Linked DNA regions of Homo sapiens. The protein of the gene in region 1 interacts with the protein of each later gene in a pairwise test. Each region holds a gene or a part of one and is shown on either strand. Other genes may lie near its edges. The genes, in order: DEAF1 and INTS1.

Region 1 (3,804 bases):
TAAATCTTTAAAATGACGATACACTGTAAATGCATTCTAACTTTGATTTTTCGTTTAACTGCACTTCTATTTTTTTGAGACTGAGTCTCGCTCTATTGCCCAGGCTGGGGTGCAGTGGCGCAATCTTGGCTCACTGCAACCTCTGCCTGGTTCAAGTGATTCTCCTGCCTCAGCCTCCCAGGTAGCTGGGATTACAGATCTCGAACTCCTGACCTCAAGTGATCCATCCGCCTCAGCCTCCCAAAGTGCTGGGATTACAGGTGTGAGCCACCACATGCAGCCAAGATTTCTGTATAATTATACGTTTTTTGTTTTTTTTTTTGAGACAGAGTGTCACTCTGTCGCCCAGGCTGGAGTGCAGTGGTGCGATCTCGGCTCACTGCAACCTCTGCCTGCCAGGTTTAAGCAATTCTCCTGCCTCAGCCTCCTGAGTAGCTGGGACTACAGGTGCACGCCACCATGCCCAGCTAATTTTTTTTTGTTATTGTATTTTTAGTAGAGATGGGGTTTCACCATGCTGGTCAGGCTGGTCTCAAACTCCTGACCTCATGATCCACCTGCCTTGGCCTCCCAAAGTGCTGGGATTACAGGCGTGAGCCATCGTGCCCAGCCATCATTATACTTTTTTAAAGGGTGCATATGATCAATACATGATTGATTGAACCCTCCCCTGCTGGTGGCAAATGCATGTTTTCCATTTTTCACTGTCACAGACAGCGCAAGAAACTTGTTCATGAAAAACTTACCTTTTCATTTTCATTTGCTTGTTTCATTATTCTCTCTTTTGCCTATCTAAACTCTTTCCATCTTTAAAGCTTACCTCAGGGCTGGGCGTGGTGGCTCATCCTTTTTTTGTTTTTTTTTTGAGATGGAGTCTTGATCTGTTGCCCAGGCTGGAGTGTAGACTTCAGGCACGCGCCACCATGCCCGGCTAATTTTTGTATTTTTAGTAGAGATGGGGTTTCACCGTGTTGGCCAGGATGGTCTTGATCTCTTGACCTTGTGATCTGCCTGCTTTGGCCTCCCAAAGTGCTTGGATTACAGGCGTGTGGCTTACCTGTTTAATCCCAGCACTTTAGGAGGCCGAGGCCAGGAGTTTGAGACCGGCCTGGGCAACATAAGGAGACCCCATCTCTATTAACTGGAAAAAAAAAAAAAGTGTGGGGTGGGTGTTGGTGAAGTATTTATACCAAGAAATCAGCAAATGCTTGAAATCAGAGCTTTTTCTCCAGGAGGGCTGGGGTTCGCATCGACCGCTTGCCCCTGGTACAAGGTGTGCATGTGGCTCCTGGATCTCTGTCCCCAGGTGCCCTTGGTGGGCAGAAGTCAGAAATGTTCTCATGTGCACGTGTGCGTGTTTGTGCTCCAAATCTGTGTGTGTTGAAAACCATGAGTTTGCCCCAGTGTCTCTAGTTCCAGTGCAGAACCTCAGGGTTTGTGCTAGTTCCTTTGTAACTTTCTTCTCCAATTGTAAGAAACCCCGCTGGGCGTGGTGGCTCACGCCGGTAATCCCAGCGCTTTGGGAGGCCGAGGCGGGTGGATCACCTGAGGTCAGGAGTCCGAGACCAGCCTGACCAACGTGGAGAAACCCCATCTCTACTAAAAATACAAAATTAGCCAGGCCTGGTGGCAGATGCCTGTAATCCCAGCTACTCGGGAGGCTGAGGCAGGCGAATCACTTGAACCCGGGAGGGCAGTGAGCCAAGATGATGCCACCGCCCTCCAGCCTGGGCGACACAGCGAGACTCTGATTTAGCCACTTCCCTCCCCTGGTCATTGTCCACGGCGCTGATTCTGCGAACATTTCAGGGTCCAGCAGCCGCATTCAGATGAGTTGTACAACATGGAGCTGGGTGGGTGGAGCAGGAAGGGATGGGACATCCTCCTGCCTGTGTTGCCTGCTGGGGGGATGTCAGGCTGAGTGCTCGGGGATGTCAGGTGCTGGGGGGATGTCGGGTGCTGGGGGGATGTCGGGTGCTGGGGGTGTCGGGTGCTGGGGGGATGTCAGGCTGCGTGCTGGGGGATGTCAGGTGCTGGGGGGATGTCAGGTGCTGGGGGTATCGGGTGCTGGGGGATGTCAGGCTGAGTGCTGGGGGATGTCAGGTGCTTGGGGATGTCAGATGCTGGGGGGATGTCAGGTGCTGGGGGTGTCGGGTGCTGGGGGATGTCAGATGCTGGGGGGTGTCAGGTGCTGGGGGGGATGTCGGGTGCTGGGGGGTGTCGGATGCTGGGGGTTGTCGGGTGCTGGGGGGTGTCGGGTGCTGGGGGGTGTCGGGTGCCGGGGGGTGCCAGGTGCCCCGGGGGATGTCGGGTGCCGGGGGATGTCAGGCTGCGTGCTGGGGGATGTCAGGTGCTGGGGGGTGTCAGGTGCTGGGGGGATGTCAGGCAGTGATTTGTTGTTTGCTGGTCAGTTTTTTACCCGACTTCCCAACATTGCGTGAGAGTTTTCTTTTCTTTTCTTTTTTGAGATGGAGTCTCACTCTGTCACCCAGGCTTGAGTCCACTGGCACCATCTCGGCTCACCACAACTTCTGCCTCCCAGGTTCAAATGATTCTCATGCCTCAGCCTCCCAGGTAGCTGGGATTATAGACGCTTCCACGCCTAGCTAATTTTTGTATTTTTTGGTAGAAATGGGGTTTCACCATGTTGACCAGGCTAGCCTCGAACTCCTGACCTCAAGGGATCTGCCCGCCTCGGCCTCCCAAAGTGCTGGGATTACAGGTGTGAGCCACTGTGCCTGGCCTCTTTTCTTTTTGAGACAGGGTCTCATTAAGTCACCAAGGCCGAAGGACGGTGGCGCAGTCATGGCTCACTGTAGCCTCGACCACCTGGGCTCAAACCATCCTCCCGCCTCAGCTTCCTGAGTAGCTGGGATCACAGGTGAATGTCACCATGCCCATCTAGTTCTTTGTTTTTGATTTCTGTTTTGTAGAGGCAAGGTCCTGCTATGTTGCCCAGGCTGGTCTTGAACTCCTGAGCTCAAGTGATCCTCCCACCTCAGTCTCCCAAAGTGCAGGGATTACAGGCATGAGCCACTGCACCGGGTGATGAGAATTTTTATTTATTTTTTATTTTTAAATTTTATTTGTTTATTTTTTTGAGATGGAGTCTCACTCTGTTGCCCAGGCTGGAGTGCAGTGGTGCCATCTCTGTTCACTGCAAGCTCTGCCTCCCGGCTTCACACCTTTCTCCTGCCTCAGCCTCCCGAGGTAGCTGGGACTACAGGCGTCTACCACCACGTCCAGCTAATTTTTTGTATTTTTTTTAGCCAATTTTTTGTATTTTTTTGTATTTTTTTAAACACAGTGAAACGCGGGGTTTCACTGTTAGCCAGGATGGTCTCGATCTCCTGACCTCATGATCCGCCTGCCTTGGCCTCCCAAAGTGCTGGGATTACAGGCGTGAGCCACCGCGCCCGGCTGAGAATTTTTAACGGAGGCCATTTTGAAGCTAGGAGATGTATTAATTTCTTGGTTTGTTTTGCTTTCCAAATGCTCTAGTGTTGACATCCCTGCCTGCGCTGGCGGTCCCACCCCCGACTCCCACCAAAGCGGCACCTCCCGCGTTGGTCAATGGGCTGGAGCTGTCAGAGCCGCGGAGCTGGCTGTACCTAGAAGAGATGGTCAACTCCTTGCTCAACACAGCGCAGCAGCTGAAGACGCTGTTTGAGCAAGCCAAGCATGCCAGCACCTACCGAGAAGCTGCCACAAACCAGGCCAAGATCCACGCTGACGCAGAGCGGAAGGAGGTAACCTTGGAACAAATGGGAAGACACGACCTGTGCCGAGTAACCCCAGGCCACC
Region 2 (3,804 bases), on another chromosome or scaffold:
ACATCCCAGGTCAGGATGGGTTGCCCGTCTCGGGCTGTCGGCTGCCCCTCGAAGCAGGGATGGGAGGAGGAGGGGTTCTGGGGGTGATCCGCTCAGGGCGTGCTGACGCACCGTGTCCCCTGTGGCCCTCAGGGGGCCCCCCCGGAGGCCTCCCCCTCACATCCTGGATCAAGTGAAAAGCCTCAACCAGTCCCTCCGCCTCGGGCACCTCTTGTGCCGCAGCCGAAACCCTGACTTTCTCCTCCACATCATCCAGCGGCAGGTGAGTGCCGAGGCTCCAGGAGGTAGAGATGGTGGTCTTGGGAGGCCCGGAACCTTCCGGAGGCCTTGGTGGCCAGAAGAGGGCAGGACACACCTGGATGCGGGGCCCATGAGCTGGCTGCTGCGTGTCGCCCTTTCCGGCTCCGCGGTCACCCGGGGGGCTGGCGGCAGGTGTTGGGCCTGGAAGGTGCTGAGCGGGCGCCACTGTCGCCTGCCCAGGCCTCCTCGCAGTCCATGCCCTGGCTGGCGGACCTGGTACAGTCCAGCGAGGGCTCCCTGGACGTGCTGCCCGTGCAGTGTCTGTGCGAGTTCCTGCTGCACGATGCTGTGGACGATGCTGCTTCCGGGGAGGAGGACGACGAGGGCGAGAGCAAGGAGCAGAAGGCCAAGAAGCGGCAGGTCAGGGCCGCCCACCCCTCAGCCCCCCCGCCTCTCACCCCGCACCCCTGTCAGGGCAACCCATGCCTGAGCCCACCAGCCGCGCACCCCACGTCCTACCCGCCTGGCCTGTCACCTGCACCCCTGAGAGCCCCTTCCTCCCTGCAGAGGCAACAGAAGCAGCGGCAGCTGCTGGGCCGCCTGCAGGACCTGCTACTGGGCCCGAAGGCTGATGAGCAGACCACGTGTGAGGTGCTGGACTACTTCTTGCGGCGCCTCGGCTCCTCCCAGGTGGCCTCCCGCGTGCTGGCCATGAAGGTGAGGTGGTGGGCGGGTCTTTCTGCGCACGCTCTTCATGTTTAAAATGAGTAGGCTGGGGACCGGGCACGGTGGCTCACGCCTGTCATCCCAGCACTTTGGGAGGCCAAGGCAGGCAGATTACCTGAGGTCAGGAGTTGGAGACCAGCCTGGCCAACATGGTGAAATCCCGTCTCTATTAAAAATAGAAAAAATTAGCTGGGCGTGGTGGAGGGGGCCTGTAATCCCAGGTACTCTGGAGGCTGAGGCAGGAGACTCGCTTGTACCTAGGAGGCGGAGGTTGAGGTGAGCCAAGATTGTGCCACTGTACTCCAGCCTGGGCAACAAGTGAAACTCCATCTCAAAAAAAAAAAAATAAATAAATGAAAAATAAAGAAGTAAAATGAGTAGGCCTGGGGCAGTGGCTTGCTCTTGTCATCCCAGCACTTTGGGAGGCCGAGGTGGGAGCATCACTTGAGTCCAGGAGTTTGAGACCAGCCTGGGCAACACAGGAAGATCCTCTCTCTACAAAAACTGAAAAAATTAGCCAGGTGTGGTAGTGTGTGCCTGTGTTCCCAGCTACTTGGGAAGCTGAGGCAGGAGGATCACTTGAGCCCAGGAGTTTGAGACCAGCCTGGGCAACATAATGATACCCATCTCTACAAAAAATAAAAGATGAGAAAAATGAGCTGGGTGTGGCAGCATGCACCTGTGGTCCAAGCCACTTGGGAGGCTGAGATGGGAGAATCACTTGAGGCTGTAGTGAGCTGTGATCACACCACTGCACTCCAGCCTAGGCAACAGAATGAGACCCTGTCTTAAAAAGGAAAAGTAAAAATCAAATGAGTGTTCAGTGCACTCTGACTGTATTTTAAGTTCCTTCCCTGCGTAGGAAGGATGCGCTAGTGAAACGTGAAGGTGGACCCTGCCGCCTGCCTGGTGTTCCTTTCTTGCTGGTGACGGGAGGGTCCAGAGTGGCTTCAGGAACTTGAACAGAAGCATTTAACAGAAAGAGCTCAGTCTCGTTTTTCCCTTTTACCTGCGGCCTCTCCCGTGGGAAGCAAGCGCCACATTCTCCTCGGGGCTCTGAGGGCACCATGCGTGTGCTCCCGGGGCCAGGGTGAGACCCTGCCTGCACTGCCGAAAGCCGGCCCAGCTCATGAGTGTCTGCCACAGGGTTTGTCGCTGGTGCTTTCGGAGGGCAGCCTGCGGGACGGGGAGGAGAAGGAGCCCCCCATGGAGGAGGATGTGGGGGACACAGATGTGCTGCAGGGCTATCAGTGGCTGCTGCGGGACCTGCCTCGCCTGCCTCTGTTCGACAGCGTCAGGAGCACCACAGCCCTGGCCCTGCAGCAGGTGAGGGCGCTGACCGGGGCCGCGGCAGGGAAAGATGAGAGGGCCGCAGCCCTGCCCTGTTGCCGCTCAGACCACCCTCCCCTCCAGGCAATCCACATGGAGACTGATCCCCAGACCATCAGCGCCTACCTGATCTACTTGTCCCAGCACACGCCTGTGGAGGAGCAGGCCCAGCACAGCGACCTGGCCCTGGTGAGGCAGCAGGGTCAGCCAGCAGTGTGGCCCTGGGGAGGGGACGGGGCCAGCCGGCAGTGTGGCCCTGGGGAGGGGACGGGGCCAGCCGGCAGTGTGGCCCTGGGGAGGGGACGGGGCCAGCCGGCAGTGTGGCCCTGGGGAGGGGACGGGGTCAGCACAGAGACCCTGCCCTGGGGAGGGTAAGGGGCCAGTGGTGCAGTGCCCTGGGCTGGCGGCTTCTTGGGCCACAGGGAGGCATTGAGGGTGGGAGGGCCGTCACGGCTGCTGTGCTGGGGCTTCTATGACCCCGTGGCCACCTGTGTCCCTTCCTTAGTCACCACTCACTCCCTGGAGCCTTTCTCCCCAGACCCTGAGGATGCGAAGCCACGGGGGTGAGGGTGCCTTGTTCACAGCAGGGTGGAATCTGAGCCATCAGCCTTCTCCCCGACGCCAGGAGGGTTTGGGCTGTGGGCCCAGGTCGCTGGGCACCTGCCCGCTGTCCTCAGCATCTCTAGCTCACATGTGTGGCGCTGACTCCCATCTTCTCTCCTGGGTGCTGTCCTTCTCTGCTGGGCTGCTTCTCACTTTGCATCACGGTTCTCTTGTCCACAACCTGCGCTGTGACCTAGTGAAAGTTGGTGGCCCGAGTCCTCAGGGAATGAGCGATAGGTGAACAGATGGTGGCTGCCGGGCAGAGGGCAGCAGCGTCCGCTTTCAGGGCCTGGTCATTGTCCCTGGCTGTGAGAGTCGTGTCCTCCCTCCCCCCTGGAGAGTCCGACCCAGCTCTGGTCGTCTTCCCTGGCGGCCTGCGGCTGAGTGAGGGTCTGCGGTGCCGCGGGCCCTGCTTAAGATCCCAGTGAGAGCGTGCCTGCGACGAGGTCACCCCAGCTGGCCGGAGAGCAGAGCTGTCTCGGAGCCTCTGACGCCCCCCTGTCCACACACCAGGACGTGGCCCGGCTGGTCGTGGAGCGCTCCACCATCATGTCCCACCTCTTCTCGAAGCTCTCCCCGAGTGCCGCGTCGGACGCCGTGCTGAGCGCTCTGTTGTCCATCTTCTCACGCTACGTGAGGCGCATGCGGCAGAGCAAGGAGGGCGAGGAGGTCTACAGCTGGGTGAGGGCGAGGAGGTCTACGGCCGGGTGAGGGCGAGGAGGTCTACGGCTGGGTGAGGCTGCACGGCACGCTCGGTGCCAGCTGGGTACCCTCGGCGCTGGCTCAGGGTCCCTGAACCTTACGGCCTGACTCCACCTCTTTTCCCACAGTCGGAGTCTCAGGACCAGGTCTTCCTACGCTGGAGCAGCGGGGAGACAGCCACCATGCACATCCTCGTGGTCCATG

The links.
Region 2: the proteins of DEAF1 (region 1) and INTS1 interact in a two-hybrid assay, tested with the Homo sapiens proteins (one large-scale study listed by IntAct).

What each region holds. Positions count from the first base shown.
Region 1 is NC_000011.10:674,481-678,284, reverse strand, and holds part of DEAF1 (deformed epidermal autoregulatory factor 1 homolog), read left to right. Parts: intron 1-3,501; coding exon 3,502-3,749; intron 3,750-3,804. UniProt on the Homo sapiens protein: Transcription factor that binds to sequence with multiple copies of 5'-TTC[CG]G-3' present in its own promoter and that of the HNRPA2B1 gene. Down-regulates transcription of these genes.
Region 2 is NC_000007.14:1,483,778-1,487,581, reverse strand, and holds part of INTS1 (integrator complex subunit 1), read left to right. Parts: intron 1-132; coding exon 133-262; intron 263-480; coding exon 481-660; intron 661-807; coding exon 808-957; intron 958-2,112; coding exon 2,113-2,292; intron 2,293-2,379; coding exon 2,380-2,484; intron 2,485-3,411; coding exon 3,412-3,579; intron 3,580-3,728; coding exon 3,729-3,804. UniProt on the Homo sapiens protein: Component of the integrator complex, a multiprotein complex that terminates RNA polymerase II (Pol II) transcription in the promoter-proximal region of genes.